2 separate regions of the Homo sapiens genome follow, and region 2 is linked to region 1. The links come from fine-mapping of genetic effects on gene expression. A gene starts in region 1. The other region holds a variant in brackets. All regions are shown on one strand. Distances are between the middles of the regions. Region 1 holds the start of FRS2 (fibroblast growth factor receptor substrate 2). Region 2 overlaps FRS2 (fibroblast growth factor receptor substrate 2).

The links. PIP is the estimated chance that this variant, and not a neighbour inherited with it, causes the effect.
Region 2: its variant is fine-mapped to the expression of FRS2 in whole blood (INTERVAL, PIP 0.95).

The regions. Positions count from the first base shown.
Region 1 is chr12:69,466,815-69,475,746 of GRCh38, forward strand. It overlaps FRS2 (fibroblast growth factor receptor substrate 2), which reads left to right and starts at 3,574. Exons shown (of 9, transcript NM_001278356.2): 1 at 3,574-3,716. RefSeq lists enhancers at 1-574, 3,245-3,746, 3,918-3,967.
Region 2 is chr12:69,535,520-69,545,132 of GRCh38, forward strand. The region is part of intron 3 of FRS2 (fibroblast growth factor receptor substrate 2); the gene reads left to right. Among named protein-coding and RNA genes, the nearest start is that of SNORA113, 25 kb to the left of the region's middle. The variant C/G (reference allele first, on the strand shown) is at 4,280.

The sequences.
Region 1 (8,932 bases):
GAGTGTGGAAGTTAGAACTTAAGCTGTGTGGTTAGGATCAGATCTGCATTAAACCAACAAACAAAATCAAAGAACCCCATTATTTCAAAGCTTGGCAAAGGGTGGACACCCAAGTAGATGGCTCTTTTGTTTAACAAAACACCTTAATGGATTTTGGGGGTAGGAGCTATGCATAGACAGGGCCACAGCCTTGCACAGTTCCAGGGGGCATCATTTGTGTTTGTCACCTCTTGAGCATCATTCATGTTGTATTCTTTGTGAATAGCACCCCCTGGAATTGCACAACATGGTAATTGTGTCAATAAAGGTGGCCTGGAGTCTGGCCTGAGATGAGGATTGAGAGTTAAATCCTTCTACATAATAAAGTAAAAGGAATTTTAAGTCTTTCCTAGTGGGTAGAGGCAGGCGGGTAGAGGGATGCCTGGAATGGACAGAAGAAAAGGGTTAGGAGAAAAGACATCTCTAAGATGAGGATGGGCCAGCAATTTGGCAACAACCTGGAGCCGAATGAGCCTGGTGAGAGATTGCTTGTAATTTTTGCAAGAGATGCATACAATCCTCTGTCATCTTCTACCTCCAGGAGACACTGGTAAATGAAGTCAAACAACTTTTTCTTTGGCACTCTTCTTTATGAATCAGGAGATAATTGGGAAAGACTTCACCGTCCAGAATCACACAGCAACACTTGCCTAAACATACAATGCCTTAATAACTTGCCTTTTTACTGTTTTTCTTTAAAAAGCTGAAAGTGCTTACACTTTCATTTCCTCATTTGTTCTGACATTCCAGTGTGGGTGGGGCAGATTTATGATAACATTATTTATAGATGGAGAAATCGAAATAGAGATTAAATCGCTTAATCAATGTTGCATAGCTGGGGCAGTGGAGCCCACAGTGGAATTTGGTTCTCCAGGCTCCAGCCACGAAGTGGAAAGAACATGAGTTTTGGAATTAGAGGGATCTTTGCACAATCCTGATTCTGCCCCTTAACAAGAATGTGGCCTTAAGTCAATTACTTCACCTAAGTCTCAGTTATCCTCATCTCTAAAATTAAGACCATAAAACCTCATAGCAATGTAGTGAAGATTAATTTAGAAAACGCGTGTAAAGCCTTGGCATAGAGTAATTCCCAAATAATATTAGTTCCACCCCCAACCCAGTATTATCTGGTTACATTTCAGTACAAATTTAAAGTAATCAAAATGAATCCTCCATTATAGTAATTTTTTTTCTAGCCTCATCTTCTTTCACTGAGAGCAAAACATGAATAAAAATCCTTCAATAGGTCATTTAATTCAACGGCAAGAACTTTTGCTCCGGTAAGAGTTATCCCTGTTGGAAAAAATTAGAAAAAAAGAGGAATATGTGGAAGACAAGATATTAGTTCTTAATATCTTATGCAGTGGTTCTTAAACTTGACAGTATATCAGAATCTCCTGGAGGGCCTGTTAAAACACAGATTGCTGGGTCCCACCCCAGAGCTTCTGATTCATAAGATCTGGGGCGGGACCCAGTAATGTGCATCTGTAACAAGTTCACAGATGATGTTGAGAGGCTTAGTCCAGGGACTTCTAGGGGTGGGGCCCAGCAATCTGTTTTAACAAGCCCTTTAGGTGGTTCTGATGCACTCTCAAATTTGAGAACCACTGGGATAGTGGTGAAAAGCATCTGAGAATATGGTCTGCAAATTCAAACCCAGGCGGCTCCATTTACCAGTTAGATGACCAGATTAAATGACTAACCTCTAGCACCTCTGCATCCCACACAGAGCCTGATAATATCTGTGATTCAGGATTCCTCTCACTATCCCTTTAGGCCTTGAGTAAAAAGAGATGTCGGTGAGTCCTGCCAACCCACGCTGTTTTTTACTTCTTCACACTCTGAGGCACAAAAGGCTGCTTGAATTTGAGTATTACGGAAGTATTTGCCAACACTTCTGCGATCACAAAAATAAAGTAAGAAAGCCCTGTAAATAAAGCCAAGAGCAGTGGCATTGTTTGCATCTTAAATTTGTAATAATGGGTTTTCAACTTTTTTCCTTTCCCCTGCCTTTCATAGTAGAAACATTTAAAAATCTTCCCCGCCACCCCCCCCCCCCCCAGTTTCAAGAGATGTTAGTACATTTGTTTTGCAGATAGTATGCATTGCTAAGAGGCTTTTTTTTCTTTCCCTGCATCCCAGATACAGAATCTGCCTCAGATATCTGGTGCCTTTCTGATTTTGTGGCTGAGGAATCCCACGCCCTCCTCCTTTCCATCCCTTTTCCCTGTCTGGTATGTAACTCTGTGGGTCCTCATATTATCACTGCATGGAGCTTCACAAGCACCTGTATTTTTCCAGTTGTAAAAACCCCTACTCTTTCTTTTTTTTTTTTTTTTTTTTTTTGAGACGGAGTCTCGCTCTGTCGCCCAGGCCGGACTGCGGACTGCAGTGGCGCAATCTCGGCTCACTGCAAGCTCCGCTTCCCGGGTTCACGCCATTCTCCTGCCTCAGCCTCCCGAGTAGCTGGGACTACAGGCGCCCGCCACCGCGCCCGGCTAATTTTTTGTATTTTTAGTAGAGACGGGGTTTCACCTTGTTAGCCAGGATGGTCTCGATCTCCTGACCTCATGATCCACCCGCCTCGGCCTCCCAAAGTGCTGGGATTACAGGCGTGAGCCACCGCGCCCGGCCAACCCCTACTCTTTCTTATTTCCTTAACTAATCTTTTCTATTGCCTATTGCTGATGAGGTATAAGAATCGTTAACTTTTATCCAATGCCAGACATTCTGAAATGTTTATCATGCATTATCATTTTGGATTCCTACAATGCAGAGATGATTTTATAACTTGCCAGGGTGAAAAAATAAAAGTAAATAAAAGGAGACAAGCAAAAAGATTCCAGATCCCCACCCCAACCCCCCCAACCCCCCAACCCCAGCTCTCGCCTCTGTTGAAGTCACCAGTGATGACAGAATATAGGAATATAGTTTGAGCCCTGTTTTTAAATAATTTCAAAATCTTGGTATAGGTAGATGAGATTTATACACACGTGAATTAAAATCAACCAACATTTGTGAGATTGGGTTTGGTATCTTTGACCGTTTTTCTCCCCTGCAAGACGTAGATAATAGCACCAACCCCAAGGAGTTTGGGGATGATTAAATAAGTTAATGCACCCGAAGGGACTTAATACAGTGCCTACCACGTAGTAAGCGTTCAATAAATGTTAACTATTATCATTATTTTTTAAAGGAGGCAGATTGGAGCGTAGAGTACACTGAAGGGAGTCGGGAGGCCGGGTGTAGGCACTGGATTCTTGCACCTAATTCTCCGAGCCTCGGTTTCCTTATTTGTAAAATTAGCTGGCTGGAGTAAAACAACTCAAACAGCAGTTAAAGCAAAGGGTGCAGCAGTAGCCGGGGAATCGAGGAGGCGCGGGGCGGAAAGGGTTAGTTAGGAGCCCAGAGGCTGATCTGTGGGCGCCCGGCGAGAGAGGCCCCGCCCCGCCCTGGAGGCCCTGGCAGCTCCGGGCTGAGAGCAGTTCCGGTGCCAAAACCCTTCCCTCCCCCGCTCCCCCGGAAGTGCTTTTCCAAGATTCGGGCCGGAGAGAGGCCTTGTAGGCACAGCGGCTGAGACTCGATCTGCTCCAAGTAGGGGCTCCAGCGCGGGTCGGAGTCTGGGGGTTCGCGCCCGCCGACCCGCGCCCTGCTCCCTCTCAGCACCTGGGCGGACGGTGAGTGGCTAGGGAAACGGACTGGGACGGCCGCGGGCCCGCGTCGGAGCTGGCGTTCTCGTGCCCCCGCTGCCCGCTTCGGGATCCGGGCTGAGGGCTCGGCTGCCGGCGTCCGGGGAAGGGGATTGTCGACCGCCGCGGACTTCTCCGGGCCAGCGGGACGGGAAGAGCTGGCTGTGGGTCCATGGGGTGGGCGGGGCGGAGCCAGGGAGGGGGTTCCCAGAGCTGTTGTTGCTGTTGGGACTCGAGAGTGGGGATGGGCTGGGCCTCTGTTCGTCCGTCCGACCCCCCTCATGTGTGCTGCCCCAAACCTCGCCGCTCCCTAGTTTGGTATTCTGTGTCCGGCCTGGGGTAGTAGCTGGACACCAGACTCAATCTTGGGCTCCAGTTCCCGACTTTTCGCCTCCTCTGGGTCTGTCCTGGGGTCAGTAATTAACCCGGGTCCCAGGGGTGTCGTCTTTTCCCTCCAGGGTGGGGCGCTGCCTGTACATGCCAGGGATCTTTTGCAGGGCTTTTCATCCAGATTTGCTTCAGGGTTGTCCGGGATCGATTTGGACTGGGCTCGGAACCGGTCCTGGATACGTAGGTCGCTGTGGCACCAGCATGCTCTGTATCATCTTTACTCACTTGAAAGCTTGCTGAAGCTGTTGTTGAAGTAAACTTAAAGAAAAAACTTGCTTAAGGAAAATCAGTAGTTTAGACACCCCCTCCCCCGCCTTTTTTTGCAGACATACTAAAAAAAAAAAGATGCTTTTCTCTAATCTACACTCTTAATTCTTTTGGCTATCTGATGTCACAGTTGTATGATGAGTTCATTCAGAGGCTGTACGAATTGATTTTAAAGAGTTGGACAGTTATATCCTTTCTCCCAAAGTTTGTTTACCTTCATATTTGGAACTGTCATTTTTCTTAAGGAAAAATTGTTCTTGGATTTTCTTGAGAGATTCCTTACACTGTTAAAATTGTTGCTGCAATGCAGAGTTTCACACAGGTGGGCAGAGATGTTTTGTTTAAACTTATTCCATGAAGTGTTTACTTCGGATAAACTGAGGATTTCCTAGGGGAGAAAGTGATGTAGGTAGGTTTAGTGAACAGATTTTAGGTAGTAAACTTTACTGCTGAAAGGTTTGTAGGAAATATGGGTTTTCCACAATAAATGGTGATTTAAAAACTTTTTATAAGGGAATGCAGTTACTGCAGATTATTGCTATTAGCAGATGGCCACTGTTTTTGCAGCGTAAAGTATTCACAAATCACCTTCTTGAAACCAGTGACGCTATCTGCAACTCTCATCTTGTGTGTAGATTAGGGTTTATTCTGTAGTTTTTTGGGTACTTATGTCATTCTCTTTCCTCCCACCCCTGAAAGGGGAGGTGGTATCATGAATCAGGAAAAATAGACTGAAGTGACAAGTTCAGTGAGCTTTTCCTATGCAAAGGAAAATTTATTTCAAGGTTGTTGATTTTGAACAGGCAAAGGGTAGATGATTTTTAAAGTCCTTGGAAAAAATTGTGGAGAGATTAGCTGCACAACTTTTCTTTTTCCTCTTCCTTTCTTTTCTTTTTTCTTTCTTTTCGAGACAGCCTCATTCTGCTGCCCAGGCTGCAGCACAGTGGCCCCATCATAGCTCACTGCAGCCTCCAACTCCTGGACTCAAGCAGTCCTTCTGTCTCAGACTCCTGAGTGGCTAGGACTATAGGCACCAACCACCACACCTGGCTAATTTTTTTTTTTTTTTTTTTTGTAGAGCCGAGGTTTCACTATGTTGCCCAGGCTGGTCTTGAACTCCTGGGCTCAAGTGATCCTCCCATCTCGGCCTTCCAAAGTGCTGGGATTACAGTTGTGAGCCACCATCCCCAGCATATTTGCACAACTTTTAAATTTAGATAGAAACTGTAGCTTCTTCCACATGTGAAGTACTTAATTATTTAGAGCATAAGATTGGAATATTGGAATTGAGAGAATCTGGAAAAATAGTTAAGTTAGATGTAGTTACAGATTTGCAGGTATGACAATGTATTTTTAAGGGAAATACTTCAAGAGTTTTAAGAGCAGAGAAAGGTGATTGGGGAAAATCAGATACTGATTGTATTTTTATATTATACAAGTCAATTCAACAAACACTGAGCATTTGCTATGCATGTTATGCTATGTTATGCATAGCATGCTATTTGCTATGCTATGTTAGGTAACTATGTAAGGAGCAAATAAAGGTATAGCCATAACAGTTGAGTTTCATGTTTTGGTAATAATTTCTGAAATCATGAAGAGTTGAGTTGTATTCTTTAGGCATACTAACAATTTTTTTTGTAATTGGGACTTAACATTGGCGATGGGTGTTGAGTGCTTCATGAAAAGCGCTATACTAGGCATTTTAGGATATAAAGATTAAACTTTTGGTTTTTAGGAATTTGAAATCTAGAAGGGGATATAAGATTTGTGTAAACATTTACAACATAAACATTTGTAAATACTTATGGGTGGTTTGAGGTAAAGTTTGGAGTAAATTATACAAAAGAAGAAAGGGTTCATTTTTAGCTTAAGTAATGGAAATTTGTGGAGATAGCTCAGAAGCTACTGTTTATTGAGCATTTACTGAACAGACTTAATGCTAGTTGCTGTTTACAGCATTTTCTTAGCTTCACAGCAATATGTAAGTACCTTAATAATGAGGACAGTGAGGCTCAAATATGTTAAGTTACTTGCCTGGGCTATGTGGCTAGCATGTAACAGCCCCAATTTGAATCCAAATCTGTCTGGTGCCAAAGCCTGTGTGTTTCTACTGCATCATGTTGCTCCCCAATAAACTGGTAACCTGAGTTTAATGTTACAGAGAATAAGACTTTTCTAAGACAAAGATTTATGGATTGGGAGTAGGTGGGTGAAGAAGGCCTTTCAAATAAAGAGAATGATGTGAGCAGAAGTGTGGAGGTGGGAAAGTTCATTGTGTACTTGGAGAAAAGTTAGTGGACCAGATTACCTGGAATATACTGTTCATTTTTGGGAATTAGAGATGAGGTTTGAATTTTAAGTGGGGGCAGGATTGTGGAGCATGTTTAAGTGCTGCTTTTAGAAGTTTGACATTTGGGGAAAAAAAGTTCGACGTTTGGGAGGTAATGAGAAGTTACCAAGGTCTAATAGAGTAGTGTGCAGAATGATTTGATGTGGAAAGCTGACTTTCAATGTAGTATAAATACTGGGCAAGGGCAGTGGTAATGGAATTAGAGTGAAGGCTCTGCAGGACCTCAATGTCGTAGGTGGGTGGCGAGGAGGAGGGGTTTTTGGAGCAGGTTTGGAGGAGATGGAAGGTGAAGATTACACTTTTGTTTTTGAGACAGAGTCTAGCTTTGTTGCCAGGCTGGAGTGCGGTGGCGTGATCTTGGCTCACTGCAACCTCCGCCTCCTGGGTTCAAGTGATTGTCCTGCTTCATCTTCCCGAATAGCTGGGACTACAGGTGCTCACCACCACGCCCAGCTAACTTTTGTATTTTTAGTAGAGACGGGGTTTCACCATGTTGACCAGGATGGTCTCGATCTCTTGACCTCGTGATCCGCCTGCCTCAGCCTCCCAAAGTGCTGGGATTACAGGTGTGAGCCACTGCGCCCAGCTGAAGATTACACTTTTTAAGTGTCGGAGATGTTGACGGTGGTACTCTTACTAGAAATACGGGCAAGGAGGTACGTAATGAGATCAGTTTTGGATTTGTTGACTTTTTTGTATACTTGCCAAACGCTGGAAATGTCCAAAGGCTTTTGGAAATGTGGATTTGTGGTTAAGGGGAGAGGTCAGGACTAGGCATATATTAAACATGGGTTTAGTGAATAATACAAATAGGTGTACTGGTTGAATCTGTGTAAGAAGATGAAAGTGCCAAGGGAGAATGTAGAGGGGAAAGAAAAAAAAAACTTCTGTTTTAAATGGCATCTGTTTAAAACAGAAGGAAATATGCTAAGTGATTTATTTTATGCAGTGGGTAAAGAATTTGATAGTATGTCCACTGCTTCTTCACACTGTAGGTTCACACGGAGTAGAAAGAATCTGATCATTAAAAATCCAATTGGGAAATACAGTTTTCTTGCCCTGGGTAGCAAGAATACTATGCTATCTTTACCCTGTTTCAGGGAGGACAAACTACTTCAGACTCATTTCATCCAGAGTGTCAGATTTGGTTACTTAAAAGCTATGTTAGCTTGTTTCTTTTGGACATTTGTTTGGCAAGTGGTATGTGAGGAGTTGGAAGCAAATCTCTGATACAGTATTTCACTTATTTATGTGTATGACATCGATTTTGGTTTCAAAATCAAGAACCTCTGAATATTCAAAGATAATATTTACATCTCATTAAGGCTGTTAATATTGCTTTTTATAGAAAATGGCATTTGATTACATATTTTTCTTCCAACTCTATTTTATAAGTTCTTTTGATTAACATGATTAGTTTTGGCTTATAATGTTTGGATTATATTAGAGGGATAGAATAAGATACTTTTATCCATTATATGATAACACATATGAAAGTTACATATTTTATTTTGGAAACTGTTTAAGAACTGTAAATTTATAGAATTTTGTGTGGTTTTCTGTTTAGGTATTTAAATAGGGGGAACTTGAGTATTAATGTGTAAAAGATTATAATAGTTTGCAGAATGAGGCTTAGAGTTGTAACTTTTTGAGGGCAAGTTTATTATTTTTAGACTGAGTTACCATGGAAGTGTTTATTTCCTTCTTGAGAATTAATACATTCCTTTTGTTTTTCAGGAATATGTTTTCCACTATATCACAGGCACTTGGGAATGTCGAAAGAGTCCTGTGTCAGTGTTGTTGGAGGCAGGGGGTTTTGTGTGTGCTTTGTCTGGGCTGTTTGGCTTAGTTTCAGTAAGCCTGGTATTAATGAGGCAAAGGTCAGGAGTTCCATTTAGCTTCAGTCTAAATGATGGCCAGGGAGTACACCCCTCACTCCCTCCAGCTGTCTTGGAAATTCCTTGGTTGTCATTGGTCACAAAGGTGACTAGATGAGGGTGGATTGTTATACCACTGGAAGAATATTAGAGGAAACTTAGGATAATGGCTGGGACCTCTGACTCTAGAATTAGATAGACCCGTGTCAAAATCCTTGGTATTCAACCTTGGGAGAGTCCCTAAACTTCTCTAAGCTTACATTTCCTCATTATTGAATAGGTTAATATTTGGTTTGGGCATTACGTATCATCACTTT
Region 2 (9,613 bases), 69 kb after region 1:
TTAATTTATAAAATATGGAGGGAAATGAAAGGATTCAAATAATTTGACCTCTTGGGCTCAAGCAATCCTCCCACCTAGAATATGGCTAATTTTTATAAATGTTCCATGTGTATTTAGAAAGAATGCAGCTTTTTCGGTTATTAAGTACAGTGTTATATTTATGTCTAAGAACTTGTTAATTGTTCTCTTCATATCTTCTCTGTCTTGGTTTTGTTTTGGATTCGGGTTTAGTTTTATTTGGGGACTGATTTATGAGTTTCTCTAGTAAGAAAGACATGGTAATTAATGTCTCTCACCATGGCTATGGGTTTGTCAGTTTCTCCTTATAGATGTGTTAATTTTTGCTTTATTTATTTTGAATGTATGCTATTAAGTACATTAATAATAAGCCAAAATAATTAAACAATTTAGAATTAGAATTGTTTTATCTGTTTGTTGAATTGAATTTTTATCATTATGAAAGGGCCCTCTATCTGAACACACTTTTAGCCTTACAGTTTTTTTTTAATTGTTGTTATTGCTGTTTTCTTGGATTAATATAGCTAGTATAGTTTTCTTTTGGTTACTGTAGTATTTTCATTCTTTTTTTTTTTTTTTTTTTTTTTTTTTTTTTTTTTTTTTTGGAGACGAAGTCTTACTCTGTTACCCAGGCTGGAGTGTAGTGGCATGATCTCAGCTCACTGCAACCTCCATCTCCTGGGTTCAAGGAATTCTCGTGCCTCAACCTTCTGAGTAGCTGGGATTACGTGTGTGCACCACCATGCCTGGCTAATTTCTGTTTTTTAAGTAGAGATGGGGTTTCCCATTTTGGCCAGGCCAGTCTCGAATTCCTGACCTCAGGTGATCGCCCGCCTCAGCCTCCCAAAGTGCTGGGATTACAGGCGTGAGTCCCCGCACCCGGCCAGTATTTTCATTCTTTAGTTTTTCATGTATTTTGATTGGAGTTTTGTAAATAGAATAAGGTTGAGTTTTATTTTTGTTCTGAATGACAATCTTTATTTTTTAACTGGAGAACTTTAGTCAATTGTGTTACCGATAGATTTAGTTTTTTTTTTTTTAATTTTTTTTTTTCTTTTTTGAGACAAGATCTCACTCTGTTGCCCAGGCTGGAGTGCAGTGGCACGATCCTTTAGCCTCGATCTGCTGGACTCAACGATCCTCCCACCTCAGCCTCTCAAGTAGCTGGGACCACAGGCATGCGCTACTGTGCTGGGCTGATTTTTTAATTTTTTAGAGATGTTATCCCACTATGTTGCTTAAGTTGGTCTTGAATTCCTGGACTCAAGTGTTCCTACTGCCTCAGCCTCCCAAAGTGTTGGAATTACAGATGTAAGCCACCGTGCCCAGCTCTGATTTACGTGTATTTCTGTCCCCTTCTGTGGTTTTTCTATTTATCCAATTCTTCCTCTCATTCTTGCCAGTCTTTTGTGTTGAGTTGGACATATATATTTGTCTCATTCCATCTCCTCTCCATACCTTGCATGCATGTATACTTGTTTATAATTAATATATTATTTATTCTTTTAGTGGTTGCTCTGGCTATTTTAACATGCTTTTCTTAGGAAAGTCCAATTAATCAGTATCTTTAACCTATTCCTGAATAATGTAGTAACTTAGCATGCTCTGGTTGTCCTCCTCCCAACCTGTAACAGTGTTGTCTGTTATCTTAGTTTTGGCATATTCTTCTTATGCACACATACAGAATTTTAGACAAATTACTGTTTTAGGTAGTAAACCTTTGTTTAAATTTATTTACCTAATTACTGTTTTCTTGGCTTATTGTTCCTTTTTGGATCTGAGACCTTTCTTCTATGATAATTTTTTTTTTTACCTGAGGTACGTTCTTTAGAATTTCCTTTAGTGAAGATCCTTTGGTGAAACAGACACTTTTTTCTTTGTTTAAAGATGTCTTTATTTCATCTTCATTCTTGAAAGGTAGTTTCTCTGTGTGTAGAATTCTGTTTTCTCATGATATTGAAGACATTATTCCAGTACTTTGACTGCTAGTATTGCTGTTGAAAAGTCTTAATTGCCCTTCCTTTGTAAGTAATAACCCTTTTATTTGGCTGTGTTAAGCCTTTTTTTTTCCTTCCCATTTAGTGTTTTGCAGTTTTGTATAATGTATTGAGGGCGTTATTTTTTTCATTCCATCATTTTATTTTTTGTAATCCCACTTGGGATTCTTTGGGCTTCCTGGATCTGAGGATAATAATAATGTCTTTGAATAATTGTGGAAAATTCTTAACCATTATCTCTTTGAATAATGCCTCTTATTTTCTCCTTCTATAACTCTAATTAGACATATAGTCTATTTTTCATGTTACTTATGCCTTTTCATCCTTTTTCGTCTCCACAAACTCATTTAAGAGCTGGCTTATAGTTATAAATTCTTGCAGGAGATTTTCTTCTTTCTACCATCATCAAGATCAAGCAGGCAAGTTTACTTGCTGTCATCTTCTGCAAGGTAGGTTTACTGCTCATTCATTTGTACTTTGTGGATTTTGGGATTTGCAACTGTATGGAAGGCAGTCTTGATCTATATAGTCTGTCTCCCGCAGTCTGCAGTTTTCTAAGCAGCATTATGAAATTACCTTAAAGTCAAGAGCCACCTTTCGTAGCTTTTTACATTTGTGCCAAAATAGGAAAATGTTTAATAATAAAATTAAAAAAACAAATTTTATATATATATATATATATATATATAGCATTGCAGATTATATATATATATACATATATATATAAAGCATTGCAGATTCCAGCAGTAGAGCCAGTCTGGACATCTAACCTACCATGTTGCTAGAAATAGAATTCCTTGATCCATTTCAAATAACATACAACTTACGTAAGGTTTGTATGAGAAACATAATACAGAATGCTAATCGGCGGTCTCCCATTAACAAAAAAAGGCCCTGGCCTTAAGTTTGGTAAATTCATGCCTTTTTATATGTTTAAGCTAAAATAAAATGATTCATGCCTTTTTATATGTTTAAGCTAAAATAAAATGATTCATGCCTTTTTATATGTTTAAGCTAAAATAAAATGTTTAAGGTAAGGAGTGTGTGTGGGGGTGGTATGTGTGTTTTAATTTCCTGCCTTATCCAACTAACTTCATGTCCATTTGAATTAAGATGGATTCTATTGGACTTCCTCTTTTATTCCTCACATTATACATTTGTCACCTTTTTCTCTTTGCAACAAAAATGGCATGTGTTAAGTTTATATTTTTAAAAATTTAGGTTCCCTTATATTATTCAGATGCATTATTTTCAAAACACATTCATAAAAAGTGATAATACCCTATCTATAATTATATTAATCTTTCAACTTCATAGTCGTAGTCTATTCTCCATGAGTTTATTTCTATATTTTGTTATGCAAATTCTCCACAAAATAACATAACATTTAGTTACACAGAGGCCCTCCTAGATGCCATGACACCCCGGTAGCAAGAGCACACCAAGAACCCAAATCTTGGTTTCTAATACAAGTTGATTATCCTTATCCTTATCCTTATCCTAAATGCTTGGGATCAGATGTGTTTTGGATTTCAAGGTTTTTGTTTTGTTTTGTTTTGAGACAGAGTCTCACTCTGTTGCCCAGGCTGGAGTGCAGTGGCATGATCTCAGCTCACTGCAACCTCTGCCTCCTAGGTTCAAGTGATTCTCCTGCCTCAGCCTCCCGAGTAGCTGGGATTACAGGCACACATCACCATGCCTGGCAAATTTTTTGTATTTTTAGTAGAGATGGGGGTTTCACCATGCTGGCCAGGCTGGTCTTGAACTCCTGGCCTCTTGATCTGCCCACCTTGGCCTCCCAAAGTGCTGGGATTACAGGTGTGAGCACCGTGCCCAGTTGGATTTCAGGGGGTTTTTTGGATTTCAAAGTATTTGCATATACATAATGAGATATCTTGGGGATGGGACTCAAGTCTAAACACAAAATTTATGTTTCATATATGCCTTTACACATAGCCTGAAGGTGATTTATACAATATTTTAAATAATTTTGTGCACGCATCATGTGAGGTCAGGTGTGAAATTTTCCACCTGTGGTGTCATGTTGGTGCTCAAAAATTCTCAGAATTTTCCAGTTAGGGATGCTGAATCTGTACCCTTCTCCTTTAAAAAGGACCAGGGTTCCTTGGAGAAATGGCTTAATCTAGGACTAGGGCAAGAAATAGACAAGATCCACTTTGGGAGGCCAAGGCGGGCAAATCACGAGGTCAGGAGTTCGAGACCAGCCTGGCCAACATGGTGAAACCCCGTCTCTACTAAAAATA[C/G]AAAAAATTAGCTGGGCAGGGTGGCGGGCGCCTGTAATCCCAGCTACTCGGGAGGCTCAGGGAGGAGAATCACTTGAACCCAGGAGGTGGAGGTTGCAGTGAGCCGAGATTGTGCCACTGCACTCCAGCCTGGGCGACAGTGCGGGACTCCGTCTCAAAAAAATAAAAATAAACACTGGGTGTGGTGGCTCACGCCTGTAATCCCAGCACTTTGGGAGGCCGAGGCGGGTGGATCATGATGTCAGGAGATTGAGACCATCCTGGCTAACACAGTGAAACCTCGTCTCTACTAAAAATACAAAAAATTAGCTGGGTGTGGTGGTGCGCGCCTGTAGTTCCAGCTACTAGGGAGGCTGAGGCAGAGGAGTGACATGAACCCAGGAGGCAGAGCTTGCAGTGAGCCGAGATGGCTCCACTGCACTCCAGCCTGGACGACAAAGCGAGACTCCATCTCAAAAAAAATAAATAAAATTAAAAAAAATTAAAAAATAAAAATAACAAAATAGACAAGATCAGCTTAGAACATCTTGTAGTGCCAAAAAAAAAAAGTAAAGAAGGGCTTTAACAAAAAACCCACAAAATGGGACTATGTCAAAGGGGCATAGGAGTCACCTAAAAGAGCTAACAGTGATCAAAGTTGGAATAATTTGAAAAAGAAAATAAGTAAAGTATAAAGTAGTATTGAATTATAACTCAGAGTATAAAATAAATATCCACGGGCTGATACTGGTATGAATAAATGATTGAATAAATGAATAAATGATTGAATAAATAAGTAAATGGAGAAGAGACAAATCTGTACAGAAGAACTCCAAATAATGTATGTCAATACTCCACTTTCCTCATGGTGAAACACAACTCCCTAATCCTTAAGTGTGGGCTGTGCATGCCTTTCTTCCAAGAAGTACAGTACTTCCAAGAAGTGCAGAAGAGTTCGGGGAGAAGTAACTTCACAGTGGAGAAACCTGACAGCCAGGTAGGTTGTCAGGGGTAACATCAACAGTGATAAGTCATGTTGATAGTGTGTTTCAAGGGCTATGTTGTGATAAAAGTGGCACTTTATCTCTGTGATCCTCCTGTCCAAATCCCATACTCCCAGTCTAATTATGAGAAAAGCATCAAATTCCAAGAGAGGAGAGGCATTCTACAAAATACTTTACAGGTGCTCCTGAAAATGGTCAGGATTATCAAAAACAAGAAAAATCTGAAAAACCATTACTGCCAAGAGGATCCTTAAGAGACATGATGACTAAATGTAATGAAGTTTGTTTTTTTAAAAAACCACAAAACTGAGTCCCTCAAGAATTTTTTTAAACCTAGAAGTCACATACTTTGCAACTTTTATTAGATTTTAGATCGCATCCCACTCTTGAATGCATATTTCCCCGGGAGCAACCCATGTTTTAAAAAATTTAGTAAAGGAGGATATCAGATAACCAGTTCTTACAAACAGGCCCAACATTTATTATGTTGCATTTGCTGCCATCTGAAGGCCTACTCACACAAATGGTAGAAAGTTGTGTTTATTAAAATCTTAACTTCTTTAATATTTCAAATTTTTAAACTTCAGGGTAAACAAAATTCTTATGAAAATACTGACACTGTACCTTAGAATGTATAATTTAACTGAAGGAAGCGTGTGTATGTGTGTTTGGCCTACTCTGTAAAAATAAAGAATATAGCATTAATATTATTAGGCCCAGTTAGTCTATTCTAGTATAGTTACTGGTACAAAAGTAACACTGGGCCAGGTGCAGTGGCTCACACCTGTAATCCTAGTACTTTAGGAAGCTGAGGCAAGTGGATCACTTGAGCCTGGGAGTTTGAGACCAGCCTGGCAACATGGCGAAACTCCTTCACTATTAAAAATACAAAAATTAGCCACATGCGGTGGCATATGTCTGTAGTCCCAGCTACTCGGGAGACTGAGGCAGGATGGTCACTTGAGCCCTGGAGGTGGAGGTTGCAGTGAGCCGAGATTGCACCACTGCACTCCAACCTGGGCGACAGGGTGAGACCCTGTCTCAAAAAAAAAAAAAAAAAAAAAAGTAACACTGTATTATTGTAATTCAGGGGAAGTAGTTTTGATATAAATCTAATAACTTTATGTAAAAAGTCTTCTTATTCTTTGATGTAATTCTAACAAATTTTTTATAATTTAAAGGGAGATACTGGTTTCAAATAAGTTATTTCTCCATTTTCAGAATAATTTTTCCTCACACACTCGAAAGATGATTTTATTATCTTTTTATTATTAAAGCAGATATTATCAGGGCCATATATTAAGAGCATTTATTGCCTCTACAACCAGATATAGGTGGCGGGGGGTTATGTTCTGAATATTTTTCTTTACTGACAGACATACTTAGTATAACAAACATATTAATTTGCAGCATTCTAATTAAAAAGTGAAAATGTGCGTGCTGTCAGACCCAATCTTAAACAGGTTCAGCCTTATCAACTAGAGGAATTTAAAACCTTACTTCATGATGCCTTTGTCTTTGATTTATAGTTGGTCGTTCGTATCCATAGGTTCCACACCTGCAAATTCAATCAGCCACAGATTGAAATTATTTGAAATAGAAAGCAGTATAAAAAATATTACAAAATACAGCATAACAACTATTTAGATAGCATTTGTAAGTAATCTAGAGGTTATTTAAAGTATGCAGGAAAAAAGTATAAAGAAGAAAAAAGACTAGCTCTAAAATTCTTTATTTTTTCAAACAGATTTTTAATGAATCAGGTTATGTAAAGAAAGAAAATATTTAAACTAATATTGTTTGTAGCTAAACCATTATTTCATTGGTCTGTGATGTTCCAAACTTGTACCTTCCAACCATATGTAACCATGTTTCTATTTTCGCTGAAATAACTCAGTAGACCAAAGATGTTGGTGTTGGAATTGCATATGGCAGATAGTTCAAGTATATTCAAAGTAAATTCTAGTTAATATTAAGTACCTTTTAATGTTAGAAATTAAAAGAGCTTAGGAAAAGCTGTAGGATGAGAAATCCAATATAAACAGTTGTTTCAATCCTAGAGTATCTTCACCTTCACCCAGGCTCATCCCAGGACTGCAAAACGTCAAAGAATGAGCTAGCTTGGAGGAAATAATGTGGCTTGGATAATGACTCTTAGGCAGTTAACTTACCTAGATAGTGTCTTCAGGAGTTACATCTGCTATAATAACTATAATGCAAATGACAGTTTTTGAATCTATAGTACAAAAAGGAAAACATCAGGTACTACCTCAGTCTTATGAGTATACTTGCTCACATTGATAACAACATGGTAGCATTGCTTCTAAAAGAAATTTTGTGATACTGTATCTTAAATTCCATATTTTTCATGAGATAGCTGTCAGTTTACAGACAAATCTAAGTGATAATTTTGAGCCCCATTTTTACAAGTCATCTCAATAAGTAACTATTAAGTAACATATGTTAATAAGTAAAAATGTAAAAGCATTTGGTTGTAGTTTTATTGATATGTTTGCACATTGCAGAAATTCAGGAACAAATTTTATGAATACTTATGTTGCTATTTTTAAACAATATCTGAGATTATTCATTCAACTAAAACTTATTAAGCATTTAATATCTGTCTGGCATTCTTCAGGCACCAAGGATATTTCGTTGAACAAAACAAAATCTTTGTCACTATGGAGTTTACGTTTTGTGGTGGCATTGGAGTGAAGAGCTAGGGAATAAAAAAACAAGTCAATATGTAGTATGCCACTTGGTGGTAAGTCATTTGGAGAATGATGTAGTAGGGAAAGAGGAAAAGGGTGTAGCATCATGGGCTAGTGGGTAAGGGTTTATCTATTTCATATGTAGTGTGCTCAGGAAAATTCTTCAATAAATTGATTTGTGAGCAAAAACCTGAAGCAAGTGAAGGAGCAAGCTATGCTGATACCAGATAGAAAAGCATTCCAGGTACAAAGAACAGTAGTTGCAAAGGACCTGAGATAGGAACATAATTAGTGTATTCTAGAAACAGCAAGGAGGCCACTGTGGCTGGAGCAGAGTATGGAGAGAGAAGAATTTTAAGGTACATGATCAGTAGTGGAACAGGAGAGGCAGAAAATGATACTAAAAAATTAGGATCTCATAGAGACCATTGAAAAATCCTTAATTTTTATTCTCAGAGGAATAGGGGGAGCCATTGCAGGCCTTTGTCAGGATAAATTGTGAACCACTTTGAAGTGGACAAAAAATGACAAATGGGTGTCCTGTCTAGCTCAGCCATTGAGTTTATCTCTGTCTCATTTTGTGGGCAGGGTCGGGGGGGTGGGGAGGCTTTCTTTTTTTTTTTTTTAAGAGTACTGGAACTTAACAGAAAACTTCTTAAAAATGCAATTGAATCATAAACATTGATGTAAAAATCCTCAACAAAACCAAATTCAGCAGCATATCAGTGGGATTATATACTATGATCAAGTGCGTCTTATTCCTGGAATGCAGGGATGGTTCAACATATGAAAATTGTTCAATGTAATATACACATTAAAAGAATGAATGGGAGAAAACCACATGATTGTGTCAATTGATGCAGAAAAAACATTTGACAAAATTCAGCATTCTTTCATGATTTAAAAAAACACTAAAACTAGAAGTAAAAGGAGCCAGGTGCAGTGGTTCATGTCTGTAATTTTAGCACTTTGAGGAGGCTGAGGTGGGTGAGTCACTTGAGATCAGGAGTTTGATACCAGCCTGGCCAACATGGTGAAACCCCATCTCTACTAAAAATGTAAAAATTAGCTGGGCATAGTGGTGCGCACCTGTAATTCCAATTACTCAGGAGGCTGAGGCAGGAGAATCACTTGAACCCGGGAGGAGGGGGTTGCAGTGAGCCGAGATCATGCCACTGCATTCCAGCCTGGGTGACAGCAAGACTCCATCTCGGAAAAAAAATTAATAATAAATAAATAAATAAAAGGAAACTATTTCAACGTAGTAAAAGCCATATATGAAAAATACAGTGAATGTCATATTCAGTGGTGAAAGACTGAAAAGATTTTCCTCTAAGATCAGGAACAAGGCAAGAATTCCCACTTTCACCAATTCTATTAAATATCATACTGGATATTCCATCCAGAGCAATTAGGCAAGAAAAAGAAAAGGCATCCAAATTGGAAAGAAGTAAAGTGGTCTCTGTTTATAGATGATATGATCCTGTACATAGAAAACCCTGAAGAGTCAGCATTTTCATCTAACAACAATATGAAAAAGAAATTAAGAAAACAATTTCATTTACAATAGCATCAAAAAGAATAAAATACAAATAACCAAAGAAGTGAAAGATTTTTACAATGAAAACTATGAAACATTG